2 separate regions of the Homo sapiens genome follow, and region 1 is linked to region 2. The links come from fine-mapping of genetic effects on gene expression. A gene starts in region 2. The other region holds a variant in brackets. All regions are shown on one strand. Distances are from middle to middle.

Region 1 (16,904 bases), 61 kb after region 2:
TGCGCCTGTAATCCCAGCTACTCGGGAGGCAGAGTGGGGAGAATCGCTTGAACTCGGGAGGCGGAGGTGTAGTGAGCTGAGATTGTGCCACTGCACTGCAGCCTGGGCGACAGAGTGAAACTGTGTCTCGAGAAAAAAAAAGAGTAAGGGTGTTAGGCCCTGTCCTGTCAGCAGTTTCTGTCTGTGTTGTGAGGCTCAGGAGGGTATAAGTTATTTGCACCTGAGAGGATTCCCCAGGCAGGAGGCAAGGCATGTAGTTTGAAAAAGTCTATTCCATATAAATGTCTCTGTTGTTTTTGTGATAAAATCTGCAAGAAGTGTGGCTTGATCAAATCTTTTTTCATGAGGATACACAAGAGTACAAAAGCATTGTGAAGGGGAATGGACTAGAAAAGCATCAACCTAAATTATTCCTCCAAGTAGGACAAGTTTACAAATGCCCATGACTTCCATGCAGGCATCAGAGAAGGAAGCACGAGCTGCTTTCATGGAGGCTTAGTAGGAAAAAAGTCTTTTTTGAACCTGTAATTCCTGCTTTAATCTTCCACCTTTTTATGTGATCGTCAGCGATGGCTAACAATGGTCTCAGGATGTGTTGCTCCTCGGAGAGCAGAGCATGTCTCCAGTCTTCCTTTACTCACTCATGCATTCATTCATTTTTTTTGTTTTGTTTTGTTTGGGGACAGAGTCTGGCTCTGTCGCCCAGGCTGGAGTGCAATGGCATGATCTCAGCTCACTGTAACCTCCACCTCCTGGGTTCAAGTGATTCTTGTGCCTCAGGCTCCCGAGTAGCTGGGACAACAGGTGTGCGCCACCACACCTGGCTACTTTTTATATTTTTAGTAGAGACGGGGCTTCACCACAATGGCCAGGCTGGTCGAACTCTTGACCTCAGGTGACCCGCCCACCTTAGCCTCCCAAAGTGCTGGGATTACAGGCGTGAGCCACCGCGCCTGGCCACTCATGCATTCATTCTTGCATTCCAAGTGTGTTTGAGCTTCTCCTGGGAGCTGGGTCTCATGCCAGTCACTGTGCTGAGTGCTGAGGAGACATGATGAACAAGATGAGCATGGCTCCTACCTTCATGAAACTAACCATCTAGAGGGGAGAGAAAACATTATAAATGGGATGAATATGCAGAAGTGCAAGGTGCTGTGGGTATCTGGTCTGGGAGTATTGATCGGGGACAACTTCCCCTAAGAGGTGATGGTTAAGCTAAGAACTGAAGCACAGTAAGGTTTGTAAGGTGAAGGACAAGAAACAACTGACCACTTTCTTTTTTGTCACAGAATCTCGAATCCTGACCTTCTTAGAAACCTACCTTGCCTCGGGTCATCAGAAGCCATTGCCCACAGTCCCTGGGGGACTCAGTCCAGTTCAGAGAGAGCTGGAGGAAGTTGCTATTAAATTTGCTCGCCTGGTCAACTATAACAAGATGGTCTTCTGTCCCTACTACGATGCAATCCTGAGTAAGATCCTCGTCCGATCCTAACGTGTATGCACCCTACAGCAGCAGTATTACTCACTAGCCACAGAATACCTGTTCTGTACTCTAATGTTGCATTGGAAAATGGCTATATAGTACATGTCTATTTAACAGCACCGATTCCAAAGGGAAGAATATTGTGTATCACTGTTGAAAAGACTTGTTGAGAAATCCACTGAATTCTATTTTGAGAGATTGTATTTATGAGTGCAAGTTTACAAATCAAAGAAGCATTTTGTTCTCGAGTTTTACAGGTAACACTCAGCTGTTGTCTCCACTCCTCCCCCATCATGTCCTTCCAAGGAGGCTGGGACCTCTCTCTTCTGCAATCTGGGTAGTTCTTTCAGATGCCTCATGCTGAGCTGACGGCCATCCAAGCGCAAAAGAGACCAAGCCATGGCCTCACCTCCTGCCCTCCCTCAGACAGCCTTGTCCCTCACCCCTCCCTTCTGGTATTTTTGTTAGAAGGGCTATATAACGTCTTATTGCCATTTTCTCCCCCTATTTATTGCTTCCTCCCTGCCTGGCCTAGCCAGGGCTCCCAAGCCCTTTTTTCTAGAGGAGAGTTATTTGTCTCTCTCTCTTTTTTTTTTTACTTTCTTTTTTGTATTTAAACATTCTTTTAACCTTCCCCCAAAGATACAGTTATTGGACTTTAAAAAGCTTGTTCTTTTATACAAAATTACTCCTGCATCTGGTTGAGAGCAGTTATGACTTATGAGATCTAGTGAAAGGAAAGTCTTTGACTTTCAAGCCTTGAAAGTCAAGGAGGAAATGTATTGAAAAATAGTTTACTGTAATGTGAACGAAGAGAAATGTCTGGAATTCTTACTGAAAAATTGACCCTGAGACAATACACAGATGTGATGATTGAATTAAATTCTGGAATTAGATTTAACTGTTTTCAGATAAAATAGCTTGAGTTCACGAATCTCCTAGATGAGGAAGTCATAGGAAATCCCTGGTGTTTGAGCATTATTTTTCAAGGAACTTCAGTGACCAGAATTCCTGACATGTCCTCTGAGCGTGAGTGATTTGGGTCTCATAGACGATCTGTTCTTTTTTTTTTTTTTTTTTTTTTTTTAAAGTGTACACATGTATGTCTGCATTTTAGACAGGGATGTTATATTAGAAGCAGAGCCATGAAGTTGGAATGACCAACTGCCACAACAGCAAGGGGTAAGACTATATTACTGTATGAGTAATGCAGTAATATCGGCACCTGAAGCCTTCTGTACAGGAAGCTAAGAGAAACTTACAAGTTAGCCGGGCGTGGTGGCTCACGCCTATAATCCCAGCACTTTGGGAGGCCGAGGCAGGCAGATCACCTGAGGTCAGGAGTTTGAGACCAGCCTGGGCAACATGGTGAAACCCCATCTCTACTAAAAATACAAAAATTAGCTGGGTGTGGTGGCACGCGCCTGTAATCCCAGCTACTTGGGAGGCTGAGGCAGGAGAATCGCTTGAACCCGGGAGGCAGAGGCTGCAGTGAGCTGAGATAGCACCACTACATTCCAGCCTGGGCAACAGAGTGAGACTCTGTCTCAAAAAAAGAAAAAAGAAAAGAAACTTGGAAGCCATTTCAGAAAGACTCCAGGAAGGCCAGCAGCCACTCCTGCACAACCAGGGGGAAGGGCTACATTTTACTGCAAGCAGCTGTTTTCTCTGATCCTTCTTTGTAAGGAAGTGCAGTGATTTTGTGTTTTGAAGGAAGACTTGAAGAAGCAGTTGGGTAGGTATTCCAATAGGACTGATGGGGAGGAAATCAGATACTCCATGAGAAGGATTTCAGACCTGGTAGAGTCAGAATACATTCTGCTTTCAGGATTTTTGAGATTGCTGATGGTCCCAGGGTTTATACAAGGACTTGGATCTGGCTATAGAAACTCAGGTAGAAATTACATGTATGCAGATCAGCACTGATGTTGGTTCTAATCTATAATGATGTGATAAATTAAAAAAACAAAACAAAAAACAGGGCTGGGCATGGTGGCTTACACTATAATCCCAGTACTTTGGAATGCCAAGGCAGGAGCATCATCTGAACCCAGGATTTCAAGTCCAGCCTAGGCAACATAGTGAGATCATGTCTCTACAAAAAATACAAAAAAAATTAGCCTGTTGTGGTGGCACACAGTTGTACTCCCAGCTACAAGCTGAGGCTGAGGCAAAAGGATCACTTGTGCCCAGGAGTTTGAGGCTGCAGTGAACTATGATCATGCCACTGTACTCCAGCCTGGGTGACAGAGCCAGACCCTGTCTCTCCTTAACAAAAAAAAGTAGAGCCAGATGTATCTTTTTGGGTCCCAGGCAGGAGACTGGAGAATCTGGGTCACTGTAATCTGGCAGACTGGCTGCATTTTGTGAGGGTACTTTTATTCATATTTATTTATTTTTGTTTGTTTGAATGCATTATTATTTTTTTAATAGAAACCACATCACTTCATTTGTTACAGCGAATAATTCAAGAGGGTCCCAGAAAGCTTTTTCATCCACAGAATTACAGAAAGGATAAGCACCCTCACCACCCAAGCCTTTGGTTCATTTTTTATTTTTTCAAGACGGAGTCTTGCTCTGTCACCCAGGCTGGAGTGTGGTGGCGCGATCTCAGCTTACTGCAACCTCCATCTCCCGGTTTCAAGCGATTCTCCTGCCTCAGCCTCCTGAATAGCTGGGATTACAGGCACGCGCCACCATGCCCGGCTAATTTTTGGATTCTTAGTAGAGACGGGGTTTCACCATGTTGGCCAGGCTGGTCTCGAACTCTTGACCTCGTGATCCATCCGCCTCGGGCCTCCCAGAGTGCTGTGATTACAGTCGTGAGCCACCACACCCGGCCTGTCTTTAAGTTTTATACTAGTTAGGAGGCTAGTCTATCAGAATGTCCCTAATTTAGCTGAGGAACCTAGACAAGTCTTCCTTGATTTCAGCTTCATCCCAAGGCCTCTGAATATTTTCTTTAAAAAGCTGCAGGCGAATGAGGTAAAATGGACAGAGACATGAGATAGAAATCAACAGAAGGGCAAAGAGTACGGCTCCCACAGCACTAATAGGCAGTAGGCCTTCCAAGACCGAAAAGGCAAAAAGCAGTGTGACCACCACATAGCCCTTGGGAGTCCGTGCCTTTAGTTTCTTCTGTAGCATGAGCCACAGGACAAAAATCTGGATGGCAAGTGTTCCCATGATGAAGACATGCAGGGACTGGGGAAGGTGGAAGCCAAGCATCCAGAAGCAAAGATGGCCATGTTCAAGGATAGTGTGCTGGATACAGTGGATACAAAGGCATCATTGGCACCATAGTTAAAAAAGATGAGGTGGCCTACCAGCATGAAGACTGACATGGCATAGATGGTGTCAGTGCTGACAGACTCTGTCAGGGTCTTAGCACTGGTGAAAAGCCATAAGTGAAAGTAATGAAGACTAGGGCACTCTTCAGGTCAGCCCACCGGGTCCACCCACTCTTCTGCCCTTCACCTCCATCAGTGAGATCAAACAAAACATACCCAATCAGTGAAGAAGCCAGGCCAGTCCCAAAAAGCCATTGGGGGGCCAGAAGACCCTCATCCATATACCACCAGATAACCAGAAAAACAAAAACACTGCACAGCTGCGGGATCACCACACTGGACTCAAATACCATAGCCCAATATTGGTATTTCCGAGCATGGATGTTTTTCCAGAGCTCTTCCAGGAACCGCCGGTCCACAAAGTTATCAGGAAAGGGCTGTTGCTCATACAAGACCCTCTGCCACTTTACCTCCTTGGTGTTTGTTACAGGTTGGGTACACATAATCCTTTCATTCAAACTCAGGCTAGTTTAATCATCCCTCTCACAGAGGTCCATGTGGTTCTTGTTGATGACATTTTGAAATGAGACCTCCCTGGAAATTCCATGCCTTGGTTGATATTCTGCTGACCTTTCCTTGTTTTCAAAGGCAGCAATCCAGGCCAGGCCTACAATAGATGAGTTTGTCTCTGAGGCAGGATATAATACAGCCAAGTTCCTGGGGATGCGTGACTGGGAGATGGCAGTTGCCTGCCTTTTTCCTTGTAAGGGTTTTTTTTTTTTTTGAGATGGAGTCTTGCTCTGTCGCCCAGGCTGGAGTGCAGTGGCGCGATCTCGGCTCACTGCAACCTCTGCCTCCCAGGTTCACGCCATTCTCCTGCCTCAGCCTCCCAAGTAGCTGGGACTACAGGCGCCTGCCACCATGCCTGGCTAATTTTTTTGTATTTTTAGTAGAGACGGGGTTTCACCGTGTTAGCCAGGATGGTCTCGATCTCCTGACCTCGTGATCCACCCGCCTTGGCCTCCCAAAGTGCTGGGATTGTAGGCGTGAGCCACTGCGCCCTGCCATGAGGGTACTTTTAAAGAAGATAACATCTTCCATGGTGTATTCAATGAGGTCGTGTCTGGAATTGTTCCCTTAAGGTGGAGGCTGCTCTGTGGCCACTGTGCCTGGCGGTTGTATGATCCTGGGTTCCTGGGCAGAGAAGCCTCAGCCTCAGAGTGTTTGGGGCCTTTTCCTGCCGCTCCAAGGCTGAAGGAGAGGAGCTTAACCCCAACTGCACAGCGCTGATCACCACTTCCTGCAGTCATTCTTCCTAAATCTCAAAAACTCTTCTTTTGTAAGAGTAGATTCTTGCAAGATATTTTTCCCCTCCTGAGTTCTTACATTGCCAGAGTTCCATTTGGACCGTTTGAAATCTTGATGCATGAATAACTGGCTTCACAGACTCTTGGCCGCCCACTACCTCGGTGTCCACTGGTGGAGTTCTGCAACTGGCAAAAGTCAAGAATGAAGGAAGCAAACTTCAGAACCACAATATTCATATTGAATCATTTTGTTGTTGCTCTATGAAGATAAGCTAATTTTCTTCCTGGAATCTCATAGGATTATTACTAAGGGCCAGGGAGATCCACTTCGTTCATTTAGTCACTCAGGAAGCATTGCTAAGCATCCCCCTGTACCTTCCCCTACAGCTCTCCTTCCAAAACGAAACATCCTTTGGAGTGTGTTGTCCTCCAGAATCGAATGGATTCTATATGCTGCATTCAGTAACAGGTTGTGGAGACAAGTGTCTTTTCCTGAAATTGCTAAGTGTATTTGGCAGTACTTTACTACTTGTGGATAGAACTGAGAGTGAGGTCAGTATCACCAAGCCTCTTGGATTTCTTCAGTAGTCTCATGGATAAGTGAATGTTTAAAGTAACTACTACTTTGTTGGCTCTTGGTTGGGTGGATGGATTCTCAGTCCTGGTGTTTTTAAAAATCTCATTCCAGCCGGGCGCGGTGGCTCACGCCTGTAATCCTAGCACTTTGGGAGGCTGAGGCGGGCAGATCACCTGAGGTCAGGAATTCGAAACCAGCCTTACCAACATGGCAAAACCC[A/G]TCTCTATTAAAAATACAAAAATTAGCCGGGTGTGGTGGCACGTGCCTGTAATCCCAGCTACTCGGGAGGCTGAGGCAGGAGAATCACTTGAACCCTGGAGGTGGTGGTTGCAATGAGCCGAGATTGCGCCATTGCACTCTAGCCTGGGTGACAGAGCGAGACTCCGTCTCAAAAAAAAAAAAAATCGCATTCCGTCTAAAGCAAGCTACAAAATGTGATTATTTATGTCACGATATGACCCAGCCATAAATGTACTTCAGGTAAGAAGGACACTGACATGATATCTTACTGATCAAATGCAGTCAGTAGGTATATATGAACTTTTTTCTCTGTGAAGAAAAGCTATTAATAAGTTTGACTTAATAGGCCTATAGTATGCACATACTGGCCAAGATTCTAAATGGATTATTCAGCGGTTCTGTTTTTGTGGAGGTGCTTATTCTCATTTCTCCAAAGCCTTAAGATTCCTGGGAATAGAGGAAATGTTGCTGCCACCAGCTTTGCTGGTGAATTTCAAAGAGAATAGGTGTTTGCTGTTTGATTTCTAGTGACCTTTTGGCGAGCTCTGATTTATAGGTAGAACATTTGTGTTTCTTTTCATTTTGAGGCCAGGTGGTAGAGTGGAAAGACTGGGAGCTGTCAGGAAACCAAGGCTTGGATCTCCACTCTGTTATGTACCAGCTGGGGCAAATCAGGGCCCATTCCCAACTCCTTTAAAATGAAAGGACTAGACTTGGTCTTTAAGCTCCCTTCCGATTCTAACATTTGGTGGTAGCAGGATTGTGCACAAAGCTCCTAATTTAGAGAAAGATCTGGGTTTTAGTCTTTTCTCCTCTATCGCCGCCTTACCGGTTGTACAACATTGGACCAGCCATTCTCCCCAAGGCCTCGGCATTTTCATTGTTAAATGGGAACACTCCTAATTCACACTGTTGCTGTGAGGATTACATTTGGTAATGAATGATAGAATGCTTTGTACATGGAAAAGGACTATACCTTTCTTTTTTAACTACAAAGGCGAACATGTAACCCTCTACCTGTGGGCGCACATTTGCTGTGGTGTTACGTTCCACTGGTAGCGCCCAACCTCCCTTCATTCAAGCACATTTTACGGGCCTACAGGGAAGGTTTTCTTCCTGTCCTCTCCTAAGACTTGTTTATGTTCATCATCTCTTCTATACTAGAGCTGCAGTCTTACATTTGCTTACTTCCTGACATCCACCCCCACCCCAGTGATTTCTCCCCATCTCCACCTCTATATTATTTGAACTAAATGAATTCATGAATGAACAAATGAGTGGATGAATGAATGGTAATGGATAATGGGCTATGAAGTCATATTTAAAGGCACTATCTCATTTAAAAACAATCTAAATAAATAACTACAATGATATTTGCAAGTGTGTATTTATATTGGATTTTGCATTATATAATTATTTTAATGGAAAGCCTTTTTAGTCATAGTATTCAAAGCAACTTCAATGGGTGGGGAAGGGGATAATCTTTAAGCCCAGGTAAGCTCTGTTTATTAAACGATCAAGTGTTCACTGGTACTTTCAGAAATAGCCAGAGTTCTACAAAATATGTGTTAAAAGTCTAAACATATAATTCTACTTAAAACTGTCCCTCATGTGGGTTTCTGTCACACCTGACTTACATTTATTGCCTACCGAACTTAAGAACCAGAACTAAGCTATAGGCCTGGTTCGATGGAGTGTCACTTTTCTTGACTTAAAAGTAACCTTAAAACAAGAGGGGCTGGGCAAGGTGGCTCACGCCTGTAATCTCAGAACTTTGGGAGGCCGAGGCAGGCAGATCATTTGAGGCCAGGAACTCTAGACCGGCCTGGGCAACATGGCAAAACCTTGTCTCTACTAAAAGTACAAAAATTAGCCAGGCGTGGTGGCATAGGCCTGTGCTCCCATCTCAGCAGGCTGAAGTGGGAGGATTGCTCGAGCCCGGGAGGCAGAGGTTGCATTCAGCCAAGATCATGCCACTGCATTCCAGCCTGGGTGACAAAGTGAGACCCTATCTCAAGAAAATAAAAAATAAAAAAAAGAAGGGCTTCACATGGTGGCTAATCCCAGCAGTTTGGGAGGCTGACGTGGGAGGACTGCTTGAGCCCAGGAGGTCAAGACCAGGCTGGACAACACAGGTAGATCCTGTTTCTACATAAAATTTAAAAAATTAGCTGGGTATGGTGGATGGTGGTGCATGCCTGTGGTCCCAGCTACTTGGGAGGCTGAGGTGGGAGGATTATGCTGTGATCATGTCTCAAAACAAACAAAAAGACTTATGAAAATTTTTGTTTTCTTTTGTTTTGATTGTTTGTTTTTGAGATGGAGTCTCACTCTGTTGTCCAGGCTGGAGTGCAGTGGCACAATCTCAGCTCCCAAGCTCAAGCAATTCTCCTGCCTCAGCCTCCCCGAGTGGCTGGGATTACAGGTGTGCGCCACCATGCCCGGCTGATTTTTGTATTTTTAGTAGAGATAGGATTTCACCATGCTGCCCAGGCTGGTCTTGAACTCCTGACCTCAGGTGATTTGCTCGCCTTGGCCTCCCAAAGTGCTGGGATTATATATGTGAGCCACCGTGCCTGGCTGAAATTTTTATTAAGTAAAACGTAAGTTCACTTGCTCATTGCCACAGTCAAAGAACTACCATGTTAAAAAAAATAATAATAATAATTTATGACCATGATGACTATGGTTTAATAAAATTGAACTCAACATTTATTAACTATAGGCCAATACAGGGTTATAATATCAAATAAATTCATAATTATTGACCAGGGTCAATATACTAACAGAAATGATGTGTTTTTCCTTCTTTTTCTTTGGTACAGTTTGGTTGTTCAGAAAGTTTACTAGTAGTTTCTATTAACCTTTTACTGTACTAGATGTGGCCACATAGGTGCAACCTCTTGTTTGAAGTTTAGTGGTAAAGGCCAGAGTTTGACTAATTTTTGTTTAGGAAGGACATACATATAGTCCTTGAAACTTTTGTCTAGTTCTAGAATCTTGAGGAGATGCTGTCATTGCTTTTATAAACAGGAAAAAGATGGATATCTTTTGGCAATTTCTTTGGGTCCAGCAATACTGATATGAGTCCTTGGAATTGTAGGACTGATTATCCCATGAGTCTGCACATTAGATTTCCAAAGGTAAGTTCAGATGTCTAACATCATGCTGCTTGTTGAACTGTTTAACAAAAGGAATTATCAAATATCAGGCAGAATCACCTTAAAAACTAAAAATTCATACATATCTCTAGCAGTTAGAACATTCGAAAATGTTTTCTTCTAATGAGAATCCTTTTTATGCTCAAAGAGCTGATCATTTCTAGGAGAAAAAAATCCTATAAATAAATGCAATAGGAACAATTATAATATACATAGTAGCCTTAATAATAATTGATATGGTTTGAATCTGTGTCCCCACCAAATCTCATGTCAAATTGTAATCCCCAGTGTTGGAGGTAGGGCTTGGTGGGAGGTGTTGGTCCAGGGGGGTGAAGTTCCCATGAAAGGGTTAGCACCATCCTCTCGGTGCTGTTCTTGTGACAGTGAGTTCTCATGGAATCTGGTTGTTTAAAAGTGTGTGGCACCTCCCCCCTTTCTTCATCCTGCCCTGGCCGTGTAAAACGTCCCTCTTCCCCTTCACCTTCTGCCGTGATTATACATTTCCTGAAGCTTCTCCAGAAGCAAATGCCACTAATCTATCTATACAGCCTACGGAACCATGAGCCAGTTAAGCTTCTTTTCTTTAAAAATTACCCAGTCACAGGTATTTCTTTATAGCATTGTGGGAATGGACTAATAAAGTGATTAAAGACACTTTTCACCAAGTGTGTGTGTGCGTGTGTGCACGCACGCACGCGCACACACGCTAAAAAATGGTTTTTCACACATGTTCGCATGGCTTTGTTTTATTGTCTGTGGGAACACTTTGGCAGATCACTTACAGGTATTTGAAACTGTTTTGTCTTCTTTTTTTTTTTTTGAGACGGAGTTTCGCTCTTGATGCCCAGGCTGGAGTGCAATGGTGCGATCTCGGCTCACTGCAACATCTCCTTCCCAGGTTCAAGCAATTCTCCTGCCTCAGCCTCCCAAGTAGCTGGGATTGCAGGCATGTGCCACCATACCTGGCTAATTTTGTATTTTTAGTAGAGACAGGGTTTCACCATGTTGGTCAGGCTGGTCTTGAACTCCTGACCTCAGGTGATCCGCCTACCTTGGCCTCCCAAAGTGCTGTGATTATAGGCGTGCGCCACCTCGCCCGGCCTGTTTGTCTTCAAAACACTAACTGTGGAGTCCTAATTAGGGAAAGGGAGTCAGGCTGGTGGGAGCAGGGAAAAGCAGATAAATTATGAGTCTGCCTTTCTTCATGGTCCAGGACATGTAGCCGTACTGCACCCAACTTATCACCAGACACCTGCAAGTTAGCTCACTGCAACACTGGCATTCTCAGTAGTACATAAAACCCTCTTCAGCACATGGCACTATCTTATAAAATCCCCAGCAAGCCTTTGTCTCTTTGCAGACAAGCATCTTCTCTGCCTGTTCCAACCTTGCAGTGCATTTTCATACCTTCTCTAATCTACCTTTCTCTACCTACTATTGTCTTGGTAAATTCTTCTTACCCCCACACCACCAGCCCCAGATAGTCGCTGCTCACCCCCGATACTAACCACCAAAAATGGCACTTCAGGAACAAGTCTACACCTCTATATATTTTTTGAAGCAGGGTCTCACTCTTTCGCCCAGGCTGGAGTACAGTGGTGCAATCATGGCCCACTACAGCCTTGGCCTCCTGGGCTCAGGTGATCCTCCCACCACAGCCTGCAGAGTAGCTGGGACTACAGGCTTGTGCTACCATGCCCAGCTAACTTTTTTTTTTTTTTTTGGTATTTTTAGTAGAGATAGGGTTTCACTATGTTGGCCAGCTGGCCTCGAACTCCTGGCCTCAAGTAATCTTCAGCCTCCCAAAGGGCTGGAATTACAGGCAAGAGCCACCGCGCCCAGCCTACATCTCTGTATTTTAAAGTCTATGCCATATGGTATTACTTGTCTTTTTTTTGGAGAGCGTCTTGCTCTGTCACCCAGGCTGGAGTGCAGTGGCGCTACCTCGGCTCACTGAAACCTCTGCCTCACAGGTTCAAGCAATTCTTCTGCCTTCGCCTCCCAAGTAGCTGGGATTATAGGCTTGGGCTACCACGCCCAGCTAATTTTTTTGGTATTTTTAGTAGAGACGGGGTTTCACTTTGTTGGCCAGGCTGGTCTTGAACCCCTGGCCTCAAATAATCTGCCCGCCTCGGCCTTCCAAAGTGTTGGGATTTACAGGAGTGAGCCACCACACCTGGCCTACTTGTGTCTTAAGTTTTGATGGTAACTGATATTTTTAAAAAACTCACAACTTGAAAGTGATGCTTGAAAGGATAAGAAAGTCTGAATTAGAGGCAGCTGACTTTGTTTTGAGAGGCGATTTTTAGCTTTAATGGGAAAATACTGGAAACTAAACACACTTTTGACCAATTTATATAACCTTGCTACATATAAATTTATATGAGTAAATGATTCAGCATAACCTTTTTTTACAAGTAAGACTTTTATGGGACATTTGAAGCTGATTTTAAATGTCAGATTATTTAATCACATCTGAATTCAAATTCTAAACTAAATTGTTTCTAATATGTAAGATCATTTCTTTATAATCATAATACTTGTCCTCCCCTCCTTTTTGTTTCCCTCCTGCTTTTTAGTTTTTAACTAGTAATGAGAAGAGGAGGTAATGTTGTTACCAAAGAGCAAAGTCTAGTTCTTTGGACTTAATTTGCATGACAAGTTTTTGCTCACTGTAATTAGAATTTAGTTAAATAAATGTCATTTTCCTTAATGTTATCTATGTTTAGCTCATGGAAAAAAAAATGTTCTTGAGCACTGGGCCCCTGTGAAAATATACAAGTTGAGTATCCCTAATCTGAAAATCTGAAATCCAACATGTTCCAAAATCCAAAACCTTTTCGGTGCCAACATGATGCACAAAGAAAATGCTTAGTGGAGTTTTGTGGAATTTGTACTCTTGTATTAGGGATGGTGAACTGGTAAGTATGATGCAAATATTCTGAAATCTGAACAAATCCAAAATCCTGAACACTTCTGGTCCCAAGTATTTTAGATAAGAGATACTCTATGTGAGAACAAGACAGCAGGTGGTTAAAGGAATTTCCACACTTAGGTTGCTTTCAAGAGAGACAAAAGTATTAACAGGATCTTAATCTGCCTCAGATTTACTGGGGAGCAAATGCATTCATATTTGAGGATTTCTAAAATGTTTAATTTGCCTCTTAAAAATGTTTTTAGTTAGCACCAAAAAAGACAGACCAGGAAAGAGTATGTGATTAATACATTCAGTAAATACAAGATGACTTTTCCTTGTCCTGACATTTATTTTTAAATGGTATTGGATAAATAACATAAGTAGTTATTGTAAATAAAATCTGAAAGAAGCAGAGGAAGCATGATGTTTCTGAATCCTTTTATTTTTTAAAGGACTTTTAAAATTTGAAACTACAAAACGGATTTCATACATTCTGCCATAAATAAAAACAAACAATAAGGCAGGACTCTACATAAGCAAACCAAGAACAATTGTTTTCAGAAAATGTGATAAAATGCTTTACAATCATAAGCCATCCAGTTTTTAAAATAAAACTGTTGAAAAACTCACAAATCTTCAAGCGGCACATACAAGACACCCTTGAAGAGGGAACAAAATGTGGTTCTGCCACTTTGTACTGTTCTCACATTTTTGAAAACCTAATTTTGCTTAGAGCATAGGTCTGTTCCGTATTCTAAAATTCACACAGGTTGGTTTGTTTTTTCTCAAGAACCATGTGATAGAGGCACCAATGACAATACAACTTTGTTTCCAAGAACCTTGTAACAAAGCGTTGTCTCTTTTAAACATACCACTTGAGGCAAAAGGAATCCTGGACAGGAGTTTTCTGCAGAGGCGTTTAAAACCCTACCGAATCCGCTTCTGCTGCCGTGCTCTGTAAATGTCATGAACAGGGGGGACAACGGCTCCCTTTTCTTCATCTTCATCTGAATCCTCGTTGGGCCTTTTGACGGCCTTGGTGAGTACTGCATTACTTTCCACGGGGCCGTTGCCTTCTACAGCTAGCTCTGGGGCCCCACCAGTAATGATCCTCACAGCTTCCTCAACAGCTATTAAAACAAAACAACAAAACGTAAAAACATATTCCACTATGAAAGGGTATGTATGTTCAACTGTGGATACTTTATTTCATAGCCTACTATTTTAGCAAAACATGGGATAGTACTACTGATACTAAATAATTAAAGAAAAAGACAAAAGCTGCTGTTAAAACTAATAATTTTCATAAGCCAAGCCTGATAGTGCATGTTCACATGAATAGAAAAGATAAAGTTTTATGACATTTTACTTAGTGGAATTCAATGTGAATAAGCCTTTCTCTGCCAAAGAGGGTTTGGGTAACTCCTGGGTTTCACTGCACTTCAAATTGGCTGGCTGGTTTCGAAAACTTCAGTGGCAGAGAATAATAATCTCTACTGCCTATGAGACAACAACGTGGAATGACACTCTGAAATGGAGCTTCTGTTACTTACTATTTGGTATCTTGCATCTTCGGAAAATTTCCATCAGTTCATCCACTTGTACAAAAGGACCCTATTTTTGACATGAATAAATTTTAATCCCAGTAATCTGACAAGTTAAAGTAGTAGTAACTTTATACACAATTACTATGACCCACAGAGCCAGTATCTACCATGAAAATAAGTGAACAAACCTGGAAACAGATAGGAGGAGGGAGAAGTTTCATTAAAACAACAGCTGCAGGAGGGACTGGGAACACTCCACCAGGTACAGGGTGTAAACCTGGAGCTGTGAGAAAAAGAAAAGTATGAATCAAGTGGAATGGAAGAATTTCTACACAGAGCTAAAATCAAGTGACTTGCACATAAAGATCTTCCATGTCTGCTGCTTTGTTCTGGACACTGAAAATACTTCTAGGGCTTTACCAAACCAAAGTGGGTGAGACAGCAGTCTCAATGCCGTGGCCACTGGGAGGCAGAGAAGTAGACAAGTGACTTTGTGTAAGACAACCAGGGACTGAACTAAAGTCAGTTTTTGTCAAAGAGTGTTTCTGAGTTACACAAGTCATTTGTTTAGCAATCCTGTTTCAAGTCAATTATTCAACAGTGTATTTAATCAGAAGGGCCTTGTTCAAAAAGAATCTAGAGAGGCTACTAACCCATTCCTAAGTAAAGAAACCAAATCTATCAGTGAAGAAAGTTTCCACCAGCTGTTCAGGTAATCTGCACATAGCAGCATTCCTTTTTTTTTTTTGATACAGAGTGTCGCTCTTGTTGCCCAGGCTGGAGTGCAATGGCACCATCTTGGCTCACTGCAACCTCCGCCTCCCGGGTTCAAGTGATTCTCCTGCCTCAGCCTCCCAAGTAGCTGGGATTACATGTATATGCCACCAGGCCCAGAAAATTTTTGTATTTTTAATAAAGACAAAGTTTCACCATGTTAGTCAGGCTGGTCTCAAACTCCTGACCTCAGGTGATCCACCTGCCTTGGCCTCCCAAAGTGCCAGGATTATAAGTGTAAACCACTGCACCTGGCCATAGCAGCATTTCTGAAAACCAAGTATTACTGCCAAAATGGGTTCCTGGAATCTGGATCATTGAAGTTTTGTTTTTAGGACATTCTTAGTTAATCTAGTTCAAAGATTAAAGCTAAATCACTTGTCATAGTGATCCTAAGTCTAATAATTAACCCACAATTGAGAGGCCATGTCACTTTACCCCCACGCTTTGGATTTAAATCAACAAACAAACCAACGTCTCAGTACTGGATCTAAAGTCATGGCTTACGTGCTAAATGTCGTGGCTGAAATGGAATCATCTGCTGAGTGTCTGGTTTAGGGTATTCTGGTTTTCTATCCACTTCATCTTTCAGAACAGGCACTATAGAAGGAGCTACAACTGGGTCCGGAATTATAGCTGCTAGCTTAGCACGGGAGACATCCTGAAAATGCAGAACAGAAGAATCCTAAACCTGAAAAAGGGACTACTAGAGAATAATCATGCAATAACCTTGAGGATACAGTGTGAATATCTGGGTCAAAACCACAGAAAGAAAATGGAGACGGATAAGCAAGGACTCTAATGATGGTAAAGATTGTTACTCAACAAGGAAAGCTATTTGGTTCTAAGACTCAGTGTATCATAACTTTACCCCACACAAGTTACAAGTCATTAAACTTAGTGTTGCCAGGCAGGACATTTGTAGGACAGATACAAGCTTTTTTGGGTAGTCAGACTGGGAACCAAGTAGAGGCCAGGATAATTTGGAGGAAAATTCAAGATTTTAGATCTTCTGACACCTCCCTTCCATTAGAATTGAACACCAGTTTCATTAAATGAAGAAGCTGGATTAAGTGACTTCCTGTTTTGTGAAGGCATCACACCGGTTAAGATTTTGCTAATGCAATGAAAAATTATTTCCAATGTACTATTTATTACAGGGGACAAGGAATATTTACTGAGCAGACACTATTCATCAGGCAATTTTAGCCATTCTGTTTTTAATGAGGGAAATAGTAACATCTCCATTATATAGAAGGGACTGAAGCTCACAAAGGTTTTGATATTTCCCAGGTCACACAGCTAATAAGAAGTAGAGAGAGGAGGATTGGGAGGGCAGGCCTCTCTGACCTCAAATCCATCCACAGTCTTCTTTTCAGTACACTAGCATTGCCCTGCCAGGGCTGAGACAAGATATGCCAAAGGAAGCAATACAGTCACCTATGAACAGAGGCCCTATCTCAGAGGAGCTCCTCTGCTCCAGACAACCCAGTGTTACTCTGTCTGTCTAGAAACAAAAGAACCCCTTTTTGCCGCCATCAAGGGATATAAAAGCATTCCACTTTCTCAAAATTTGTTGAAATGGAGTTGGTGACATCTGGTATTAAT
Region 2 (11,911 bases):
CAGCCTCCAAAGTAGTTGGAACTACAGGCGCACACCACCATGCCCTGCTAATTTTTTGTATTTTTTTGTAGAGATGGGGTTTCGCCATGTTACCCAGGCTGGTCTCAAACTCCTGGATTCAAGCAATCCACCTGCTTCAACTTCGCAAAGTGCCGGGATTATAGGCATGAGCCACCACCCAGGTGGGATTTTTAAAAGAACTTTTTCTATTAGAAGTTACTAAACTTTAAACTTTAAAAAGTAGGAAACTGATATTTTTTAAAGCTCTGTATTTTGATGGGGACAATCAGAGCATCTACTATTTGCCCAGCAATGCACAAATGCTGAAAGAAGTCCAAGAGGTTAAAATATGCTCCATGCCCTGGACAATTTTCCAATTTTTTTTTTTTTTGAGATGGAATTTCACTCCTGTTGGCCCAGACTGGAGTGCAATGGCGCTATCTCAGCTCACTGCAACCTCCACTACCCGGTTTCAAGTGATTCTCTTGCCTCAGCCTCCCAAGTAGCTCGGATTGAAGGCATGCACCACCACGCCTGGCTAATTTTGTATTTTTAGTAGAGACGAGGTTTCTCCATGTTGGTCAGGCTGGTCTCGAACTCCTGACCTCAGGTGATCTGCTAGCCTTGGCCTCCCAAAGTGCTGGGATTACAAGCATGAGCCACCACACCCGGCAATTTTCCAATTTTCTTAGGCAATTAAGATATGTGTGTGCTCCCGTTAGAATGGCGATCATTAAAAAGTCAGGAAACAACAGATGCTGGAGAGGATGTGGAGAAACAGGAACACTTTTACACTGTTGGTGGGACTGTAAACTAGTTCAACCATTGTGGAAGACAGTGTGGCAATTCCTCAAGGATCTAGAACTAGAAATACCATTTGACCCAGCCATTCCATTACTGAGTATATACCCAAAGGATTATAAATCATGCTGCTATAAAGACACATGCACACGTATGTTCACTGCAGCACTATTCACAATAGCAAAGATTTGGAACCAACCCAAATATCCATCAATGATAGAATGGATTAAGAAAATGTGGCACATATACACCATGGAATACTATGCAGCCATAAAAAAAGGATGAGTTCATGTCCTTTGTAGGGACATGGATGAAGCTGGAAACCATCATTCTCAGCAAACTATCGCAAGGACAAAAAACCAAACACCACAGGTTCTCACTCATAGGTGGGAATTGAACAATGAGAACACTTGGACACAGGAAGGGGAACATCACACACTGGGGCCTGTCGTGGGGTCGGTGGAGCAGGGAGGGATAGCATTAGGAGATATACCTAATGTAAATGACGAGTTAATGAGTGCAGCACACCAACATGGCACATGTATACATATGTAACAAACCAGCATGTTGTGCACATGTACCCTAGAACTTAAATTATAATAAAAAAAGATATGTGTGTGCTGTAATAATCAGAGAGTATCAATACAAGCAGGAGATGAATAGTAATGCATTTGATAAGTGCCACAGGTGCTCAGAGAAAAAAAACACACCCGGGTAACCTGGAAAAATCTGTCCAGGGAAGAAAGTGGGAAAAGGGATAGGCATTTCCTATCCCATGGTTGTAGAAAGTATCTGAGTAGAGATGAACATTTCAGCATTCCAGAAGAGGTAAACAATTATTGCATAACCTGGTGAAAAACTCTCTGAAATGTTATATAAAGTATCAAAATGGTCACTGAGGTCACCAAGCTTTTTCAAATATTAGTGTTTTTCAAGATTTGTCTTCTGAGACAGATGAGCTTTTCCCCCCTCCCATGCAGTGAGGGAGGACTTGTGTGTTCATTCAGTTATACAGCACGGGATAAAGTTCATTGGTATACTGGGTGCCTGAAACCAGCCCTGAATGCATCCTCTTTCTGTGTGTAGCAGCCAATTGAGAGATTACAAAGAAAATCCTTAAACAGAAGTAAAGCAGGGTTTTACTACCATCAGGGGAAGAGGTCACATTAAAAAAAGGTTGCCAACTGGTTGGCAACCTTTTTTTTTCTTTTTTGAGATGGAGTCTCACTCTGTCATCCAGGCTGGAGTGCAGTGGCACAATCTTCGCTCATTGCAACTTCCGCCTCCTGGATTCAAGCGATTCTCCTGCCTCAGCTTCCCAAGTAGCTGGGATTACAGGTGCCTGCCACCACACTCGGACAGTTTTTGTATTTTTAGTAGGGGTTTCGCCATCTTGGCCAGGCTGTTCTCGAACTCCTGACCTCGAAGATCCCCCTGCCTCGGGCCCCCCAAAGTGCTGGGACTACAGGCGTGAGCCACCGTGCCTGGCCAGCTTTTTCTAACACTAAGCAGCAGCAACTGGCCCCCACCTCCCACCCACAAACCCAAGTCCCCAGGGGCAGCTTCTTAGTATGTATTCTCTGAAACAATCCCATGTAGAAGCTCTTTCCAATAAGCTAAATAATGAACTCCCACTTAAACACCATTCTAATTTACACCTAAATCACACAAGCATCCTCCTTCTAAGAAGACGTCATAATCGTTTTGAAAATCATTGCAAAATTCCCAAACTTGAAAAAAAAGAAAAAAAAAAGGGCAAGTGTCTGGCAATTGGATTATTGGTCTCTAAGACCACTCATCCTTTCAGAGGTATCCAGCATTGGATCCCTGGCCTGGCTTCAACTTCCAAGTAACTAAGATGTGTCCCATTAATAGCCCTTCCTCCTTTTCTCTCCTCACCTTCACTCCAACCGGCAGCAAACTGTCCCTACCCACCCGACCCACAGTTCCTTTGGAGGCAGCACAGATTTCCTGGCAGCCAGTCCCAGGGTCTTTCGTTGCTGCCCTCCTGTGACCTCTAGACATTGCTCTCCTGGGCCACATAGGATTTGTTTGTTCTGCACAGGTAGGGATGTCTGAAAAACTCGATTATTATTGTTATTATCACTATTACTACTACTACTATGACATAATTTTAAGCACTTACGTTCCGGACGCAGTTACTAAATGCTGAACCTGAATTGGTTCCTATAAACCTCGTTAAAAAACAAACAAACATCTCAGTGAAGCAGGTACTAAACCTACCCCCGCATCACAGGTGAGGACACCGACGCACAGAGCAGTTAGGCAGCTTGCCAGGTTCCCGACTTTTTCTATTTCTTTTTTTTTTTTTTTTTTTTTTGAGACGGAGTCTCGCTGTGTCGCCCAGGCTGGAGTGCAGTGGTGGATCTCGGCTCACTGCAACCTCCGCCTCCTGAGTTCAAGCGATTCTTGTGCCTCGGCCTCCCGAGTAGCTGGGATTACAGGCGCCTGTCACCAAGCCCAGCTAATTTTTGTATTTTTAGTAGAGAAGGGGTTTCGCCATGTAGGCCAGGCTGCTCTCGAACTCCTGACCTCAGGTGCTCTACCTGCCCTGGCCTCCCAAAGTGCTGGGATTACAGGCGTGAGCCACCGCGCCCGGCCTGGTCCCGAGTTAATCTACGGCAGGCCGCGGTTCGAATCCCGCTGGTGTGAGCCGCGGGCCGCGTAGTGCCGGCCCAGGGAACCGCTTTGTCCCCGACCACCGCTCGCGTGGCATCGCGCCCGAGGAAACTTGGATCGCTGGCGCCGCGGGCTACGTTCAGTGGTTGCCAGAGAGACACGTGACCGGCAGCGGGGGCGGGGCCTGCAGGGAGCCACGCCCCGCACAGTTAACAGACGGGCGCTCAGGGAGCTAGGGAGCTGTGAAGCTGCTGGAGGAGTTGGCGTCCGGGGAGCAAGGGCCATGGCCACCGTGCAGGAGAAGGCTGCTGCGCTGAACCTCTCGGCTCTCCACAGCCCCGCGCACAGGCCTCCGGGTAGGTGCCGAGGACTGCCGCCTGGGATGGCGCGGGGCGGGCTGGGGTGCGCGGGCTGGGTCCCGGCGCGGGGCGGGCGGCGTGGGGCGTTCGGCCGCCTGCGCCTGTCAACGGCCGGCTGGGCGAGCACAGCACAGCTGCGACCACTTGGCCAACGCCCCCGCCGAGCGGGCGGATCGAGTTCCTCTCTGGCTGGTGGGCTGCAAGCGGCAGAGCCCGCCCGCACAGCCCAGCTTTTTTCTTTCTACCCAGACTCTCAACTTGACCGCGCGTTGGTCTGTGCGCCCGCTAACGTGCCAGGCACGCGCCGGGGAGCTCCGGGATATGCTCCGCGGTGCTACCGGTGACAAGTGTGGTATCTGGAATTTGTGTAGTTCTTTGCCCCCTGTCTCAACCACAAACCTTGACGACACAGTATGGCCAGGGGCCGAGCTCCTCCCTTGCCCACTTTGTTCTCCAGACTGCTAGGAGTCAAGAGTCAGCTTGTCTCCCCAGACTCTTCCTGGGAGGGATGAGAGGTTTATGTGAGTTCTACTGGCAGGAATTTGGCATAAAAGGTATTTATTAACACTTTATGTATAAGCAGTATTTTAGTGAATAGAAGTTTTTGGCTAAAAAAACAGTTACATGAAATTAGGAGGGAAGTTGGCAAATTCTGCCACGGGCCTAATCGTGTCTTTTGGGGGCAGTTGATTTAGGATTCTGGTTTCTTTAAATGTTCAAACACATGAAGAGAATCGGATATCACTTCTAAAATGCTGGTTATAGCAGATCTACAACCCAGTTAATAGGGGTGACTCAGATAACTGTTAAGATACTCAGATAACCCTTGGCTTTTTTCTTTTGGTTAAGTTACAACTTTTTCCCCTTTCTGGAGCTCCAGTCTGGGATGTCGTAGGAATTAGTTCCCTTTCTGACAAAAGCCTTTCATTTGTAAAAACACCAACCAGTGAAACTGTGATTCCTTCCTCTGGGTCAAATGGGTGCTTCTCAGTGGCCCCACTCTTGTGTTTGACTTACTCACTAATGCTCATTTTAATCTTCAAAATGCTAACGACAGATTATGGTAGAGAACCATTTTTCACTTGTCCTTTTCTAAGAAAAATCATAATATTGACCTTAGTCTGCTTCCATGTAAAGGATTCAGGTAAGCACATAGTGGCCACATTGAGAATGTCTCCTTGATTTATGTTGTGAAGAGAAGACAAATGCTAAGACATTTGGGAATTTAAAACCAAATGACATTGAAAACAGTCTTGAGAAATCTTTTGGGCCCACTTACTCAGTGAAGGAAATTCCCAAATGTCACCTGCTTAAAATAAAAACATGGTACCCTGTTTTCTCTAATAGCTGAAATACCAATTCTGGAGCTTTGGGCATTTGTGAACAGGTTCTTAGATGGTGTAAGGAAGTATGTATTCAGAAATTAAGTAGATAACTCTCTAAGGGAAGAGTTGAAGTGCTGGTTATCAGGAATCAAAGGAACACTGTCCTCGGCACACTAGCTGCAGTGGACGGAGAGGGGCCCGCTGTTGTTCTCACTCGTTTTGCTTGCTACCGCTGGAATCCCGACCTGGTAACATTTGTTAGCCTTTCTTTCACCCTTTAGTTGCCTTGTCATAGTTCCAGTGAGCAAGGTAGTGGGAGCACACGGTTATTGGTTCTTTGCCATTCTCTTTCTGTGTGCTCTGGCAGGCAGCTTTGTACTTTTGTTTCTCCACCGATTAGTAACTCTCACTTACCTTAAAGGGGCTGTAATGACCAGGGACCTGATTTATGTACAAGAAATGAGATCTATATGCCAGTCTTCAGCCAGTATGTCAAAAACACTTGTCTTTTAATACGACAAACAAGAAAGTAGTCTGTTATCCTGTTATCCCTTTATACTGTAACCTAATTCTTTGAGTTTGCCTGGTATCACTTTTCCAGGGAGCTCAAAGTACTTCCCATATGCTGTCTCATTAATGTATGTGAATTAAAGCAGAGACCAATGTCTGCTTTTGCTGATAATTCTCGTAGATATTGTAAATTTTTCTTGTTGGTAGACTTCTTTTACCTACCTGCAGCCTTCTTTTCAGAGGCAATCGCAGTCTTCAGCATGACGCCTCTAATGCCAACTAGCAGGAAAATAAACTTTGGACTACCAGAACCAATATCCAGTAAAAGTGTTGTAATCTTGGGATCATAGTATAGAAAATTTTTCCACTCAGTCACAACTGTCAAGTTTTAACACCATAAACACAATTCTCTTTACATTTATCTATTAATATTTTCATGAGGTTTTGGTTACTATCCAACAAATGTCCTTTTTCTTTGTTGTCTTGACAATTCTTTGTGTGAGTAATATTTTAAAACCTCTTTTGAAAAAATCTTTCTTAAAATTCTCTTAAATCCTAAATGGTCTAGGATTTATAGATGTGTTATTTTCTGATGAAAAGTTAAATCCTCTGGTATGTGTCACATCTTGTCTTCTCATCTCCTGTTGGCCTTTATGTGATTGAATACTATTCAGAACTTGACATTATCATCCAGGTAGTAGGAGTAAATAAAAGGTAAACTCCTAAGGTTGGGGACTGTGTCCTCTGAGTTCAGAGGAAGGAAGAGGAAGAAAGATACCTCCCTTTTCTTTCTACTTTTAAAATAAAATTTTAGATTCACTAAATAGTATGGTCCATTTGTCATAATTAATGAACCAATATTGATACATATAATTATTAACTGAAGTCCACACTTAGATTCCCTTGGTGTTTGCCTAATGTTCTCTTCCAGGATCCCATCCAAGATATTATATTACATTCAGTTGTCATGTAATGAATCTACTCTTCTAGACTGTGACAGTTTGCTCCTTTTGTTTTTAGTGATACATCTGTTAATTTCTGGACATTTTGCGAGACACATTAACATATTGTCTCATGATCCTCGCAATGAGTGAGAGAAGTGGAGTTAGCTCTGTTTTGCAACAGAAAAGTTAGGCAGTTTGCCCAAGATCGTGTTATTAGTAAATGATGGACCCAACAACGGAACTCAGGTCCCTGGGACTGCAGAGTCCACACTGGTCTAACTCTTTGTAGTCACAGCACCTAGCACTGTGTCTGCTGCGTTAACTCAAGTTTCCATGTCTGAACAGTATTCAGTCAACCCAAGGTTTCTTAACCTTGGCACTACTGACGTTTTCTTTGTTGTGGGTGCTGTCTGTGCATTGTAAGATGTTTAGTAGCATCCCTCTACCCACTGGATGCCAGCAATACCCACACTCATTGTGACAATCAAAAATGTCTCCAGACATGTCCTGTTGGGGGTATAATCACCCACTGAGAACCACTGGGTTAACCTTCCTTTAAAAATTTTTTTTATGAACGGGGTGTAGTGGCTCACACCTGTAATGCCAGCACTTTGGGAGGTTGAGGCAGGTGGATCATTTGAGGCCAGGAGTTTGAGACCAGCCTGGCCAATGCGACAAAACCCCATTTCTACTAAAAATCCAAAAATTGTCTGGGTGTAGTGGCGCACACCTGTAATCCCAGCTACTCAGGAGGTTGAGGCAGGAGAATCGCTTGAACCCAGGAGGCAGAGGTTGCAGTGAGCCGAGATCACACCACTGCATTCCAACCTGGATGACAAAGTGAGACTCTGTCTCAAAAAAGAAAAAAAAGTAAGTTTTTTAGTAGTTAGCAATAATTAACAACTAACAAATATTGACTAACCAATTGTATTATATTGAGGCAATCTGTAAGGCAATTAAATAATTTAAACCTCTGTAAACCGCTAGGAAATCTGAAAGAAATCGGGCACTAGCTCACCATCTCTTAAAAGTTTTATGGAGAAACATCAACTGTCTGGATTCAGTTCCTTTTTTTTTTTTTTTTTTAAGTCCAGTCTAAAGACCGAGAATGGAAACAAATTTGTTATATGTTCATTAAGAGGTAGTGTGTTTTATTAATTCTGTGTGTATGTTTACCTTACATTGGGATCCAATTTTATAATGTGTATATTGATCTACTTCTAAAGATTTAATATAATCTTACTATTTGAAGTGATTATACAATTGTTTTCCCTTTAAATAGGTTTTCATAGGTTTTCACAGTAGGACTAGGGTTGCTGACAGGGTGGATTATGGTTGATGCTGATTATCCCTAATTTTTGGGTAAATGTAATTTCTTTACATTTTTAGGGAATTATTATGACTCAGTTATTTAGTGTGAATTCTTAGAAGTGAGGATGATTATTACTGGTACTACACGTATATATAAGTGTTCAATATTATCTTAGAAGTTTAACTTTTACTTTTGGTAAACGTTTTTTATGGTAGAGTTCAAATACATGTGAAGGGCAGCTTTTGAAAAATAGCTATTGTTTTCAAGCAAATAAGGATGAGACTGCTTGAAAAATGAAGGTTAACTAGCCTAGATTTATATAGTGCTTGAGACTATGTGTTGAAGGCTAGATAATCAAATTATTCCTGAGCCTCCTTAGGCAACCTTCCAAAAGGTTTTGTATCTGGTAGGGTCAAATTTGTCCATATGCTTCCTTTCTTGCCTATAGATCTGCCATATTTGGTGTTCAATGTCCTTATCTAAATGGAGGAGATATAATTTCAGTCTTTACATTCCTATAATCAGTTTATTTAAAGACAGGATCTCACTCTGTCACCCAGGCTGGAGTGCAGTGGTGCGATCCTAGCCCACTGTAACCTCGAACTCCTGGCCTCAAGCAATCTTCCCGCCATGGCCTCCCAAAGTCCTGGGGTCAGAGGCATGAGCCACTGTGCCTGCCCTGGCAGTTTAGACCTGAAACTAACCTAAAATATTGTGTTCAACTATTTTATCAGTAGATAAAGAAACCTACTTACAGAGATTGTCTCTTATCCAGAGTTTTTACAGCTGATCTCTAAACTCTTTGATTCCATTTGTTATGATGCTTTTAGAAAATGCTTGACCAGGCTGGGTGTGGTGGCTCACACCTGTAATCCCAGCACTTTGGGAGGCCGAGGTGGGTGGATCACGAGGTCAGGAGTTCCAGACCATCCTGGCCAACATGGTGAAACCCTGTCTCTACTAAAAATACAAAAAAAAATTAGCTGCACGTGGTGGCGCGTGCCTGTAATCCTAGCTACTTGGGAGGCTGAGGCAGGAAAATCACTTGAAGCAGGGAGTTGGAGGTTGCAGTGAGCCAAGATCGCACCACTGCACTCCAGCCTGGCGACAGAGTGAGACACCATCTCAAAAAAAAAAAAAGAAAAAAAAGAAAATGCTTGACCAAATGTAAGGAAGCATCAAGATGTAGATAGTGATGGATTTTAAAAGGTTGTTTAGCTCATATGAAAGTGAGGTTTGAGGACAAGCTGAACCCTTAATTCTGATTGCAAGACTTAAAAAACATTCATTGTCTATTTTTGGTCTCTTAAATCCTGTTTAGAAATCACAGTAAGTCATCTTACTGGGCCATGATCTGCTATACCAATATTCATTTCAGCTTTTAAATGACGATAAATAAGTTTCAAACCATATATGTTCAGCTGGTGAAGTCAGCATTTTAAAAAGCAGGTTATCCTGGTATGGGTTTTGGCACATTTACTTGTCAAGTCCAGGGTACATTGTGTATGAAAGCATCTGTATGAACATGAGCTAGTTTGTGGGTGGTGGTGCTTGAAGGGAAATATCCCAGGATGCAATGGTTGGGAATTAATGGTCAGTGAGAACAGAGGGGACCTGTGAGGGCTGCATTGTATCATGCCTGGAGGACTCTGGAAACCTGTGGTTCACAGGTGTCTACTCTCCTGCTCTAACTAGTTCTTTAATCTTTTATGCAGTGTTATACAACCTGCAGAACCTCCTGATTTCCCACAAGTTAATATGGGGAAATTTATTCTTTACCTCTTAATTCTTCTGTGAAGATTAGCCTTTTCTACTCATTGAGGCCAAATATCCCCTCTCACCGCCCTCTTCAGCTGTCTTACTGATCTGTAATTAATAAGTGACTCAGCCTTGTCATTTAGGATTTGTGTGCTAACCTACTTATAGCTCAAGTGTTATGACTTATGTGTTTCATCTTTATATTATCACTAGTCCAAAAGTCTGTCTCATTGGTTCTTAAAAGGCAGTCTGATTGAAGTTTGAATCTTGCATGTCTTCCTTTTCCTGTCTTACCCTGTGTACTGTGGTAGTATTTATTACAGAATTTATGATATCCTGCCTTATTTTATGAGTAGTGACTACTGTTTTTAAATAGCTTGGTTAAGGGTTCTTAGAGTTTGTTTTATCTCTTGGCTCTCTTAAAGCTGTTTCACTTAATCCAAGTTTCCAGTGAAAGGTTAATGCTTAAACAACTTATCTGATGGCTGACTTTTCATATATTTATGTTTAAGTACTAGGAAACACTAGTATATATTTATCAGCTGTGTAACTGTGGGCACATTTAACTCACAGAGCCTCAATTTCCTCAAAATAGGATTATTAATAATCATTTTGCAGAGAAGCTTATCAGAATTAAATGCGAGAAGACAGAGCCTGTCATAGTGTAAATACTCAAATGTTAGCTATTAATAATAAAGATTTGAAAAATTAAGCAGAAATTGTTTATTTTAAATCTTATTTATAATCTCTGGTATTTTAGGAAGTTAAGAATATTAGTCGCTAACAATGTTTAGGCATTGTGGCTGGAAATAGTACAACTACTCCTGAGTTCTGGATACCAGAAATGACCTGGACTTACTCTGAGATTCCATCAAATGCCTCATTCTTGCTCTGTTCAACAGAGACTAAATACTGTACCAAGAGTAGATCTAATTCCAGCTTGATTTATTTAGTCAATTCTCCATAATTCAGTTCCTGAAATAGCTCACATTATATTTGGAAGACTGGCAACAATTACTTCCATCTTTGTTTAGTACTGGCTTATGAAATATCTTCAAATTTAAAATACAATTTTGACAATTAAAAACAATCTTGCTTATTTTGGGAGGCCTAGGTGGGTGGATCACGAGGTCAGGAGATCGAGACCATCCTGGCTAACACGATGAAACCCTGTCTCTACTAAAAAAAAATACAAAAAATTAGCCGGGCGTGGTGGCGGGCACCTGTAGTCCCAGCTACTTGGGAGGCTAAAGGTGGGAGAATGGCATGAACCCAGGAGGCGGAGCTTGCAGTGAGCCGAGATCACGCCACTGCACTCCAGCCTGGGTGACAGAGAGGGACTCTGTCTCAAAAAAAAAAAAAAAATCTTGCTGATCATTTTAAACCAACGTTATAATAATGGGTAGGTGGTAAATTACCCATCTACTTTTGGTATTAGAAATATACAAATAAACAATAAAGGACTGTGTATTTGTGTATATGCTATTCATTTTCACTATAAAGATGTTTAAATTGCTAGTAGCTACAGAATTATGCTACAAGTGAAATCAGTGTAGTGGTTCAGTGTACTCCTTATATTTATTGCAACGTAAGAGATGAATTTCAAATGACCCACTTATAATTTATGGCTCTAGTGCACTAAGAGGAGTTTTTGTTTATTTATTTATTTATTAGACGGAGTCTTGCTTTGTCGTCCAGGCTGGAGTGCAGTGGCACTATCTTGGCTTACTGCAACCTCCACCTCCCAGGTTCAAGCAATTCTCTGCCTCAGCCTCCTGAGTAACTGGGATTGCAGGTGCCTGCTACCACGCCCGGCCAATTTTTGTATTTTTAGTAGAGAGGGTTTCACCACCTTCGGCAGGCTGTAAAGGAGTTTTAATAATGTCCTTCAGGAGCTTATCTTATGCTTTCTTCATCTTAAACATTCTATTTTGCCTAAAAAAGTAGGAAGATAATTTCAAGTAGCAATTTCTTTAATTATAATTCCCTTTTTTCCTTACCATTGTACTCATGCATATGGTTTTCCTTTCTAGACGATCTTAAAGGAAGTAATAACTTCACCTTCTCTGCCAAAATATCTAAAAATAAAGGAAGTAATATACTTAACATAAATGGGGGCTTAAATTAAGACTGCTGAATTTTCAGAGGATCACTGAAAAGTGTAACACATTAAAGGGCCTACTCTTTATGAAAGGAAAAAAGGGAGGGAGCCAGCCAGCCACCAAGTGAGTGATTCACTGGAATCCATTCCATCGGTTTACA

Evidence for each region.
Region 1: its variant is fine-mapped to the expression of DEPDC7 in whole blood (INTERVAL, PIP above 0.99).

The regions. Positions count from the first base shown.
Region 1 is chr11:33,071,185-33,088,088 of GRCh38, forward strand. It overlaps LINC00294 (long intergenic non-protein coding RNA 294), which reads left to right and starts at 4,966. Exons shown (of 1, transcript NR_015451.1): 1 at 4,966-8,270. TCP11L1 (t-complex 11 like 1) reads left to right here. Exons shown (of 10, transcript NM_018393.4): 10 at 1,290-2,366. The coding sequence ends at 1,492. It overlaps CSTF3 (cleavage stimulation factor subunit 3), which reads right to left. Exons shown (of 21, transcript NM_001326.3): 18 at 15,804-15,957; 19 at 14,711-14,805; 20 at 14,529-14,589; 21 at 13,400-14,105. The coding sequence ends at 13,903. It also overlaps the pseudogene PIGCP1. The variant A/G (reference allele first, on the strand shown) is at 6,877.
Region 2 is chr11:33,012,232-33,024,142 of GRCh38, forward strand. It overlaps DEPDC7 (DEP domain containing 7), which reads left to right and starts at 3,647. Exons shown (of 9, transcript NM_001077242.2): 1 at 3,647-3,797. The coding sequence starts at 3,725. LOC105376615 (a long non-coding RNA gene) reads right to left here and starts at 3,559. Exons shown (of 4, transcript XR_931167.2): 1 at 3,046-3,559. RefSeq lists silencers at 3,492-3,541, 3,862-3,921.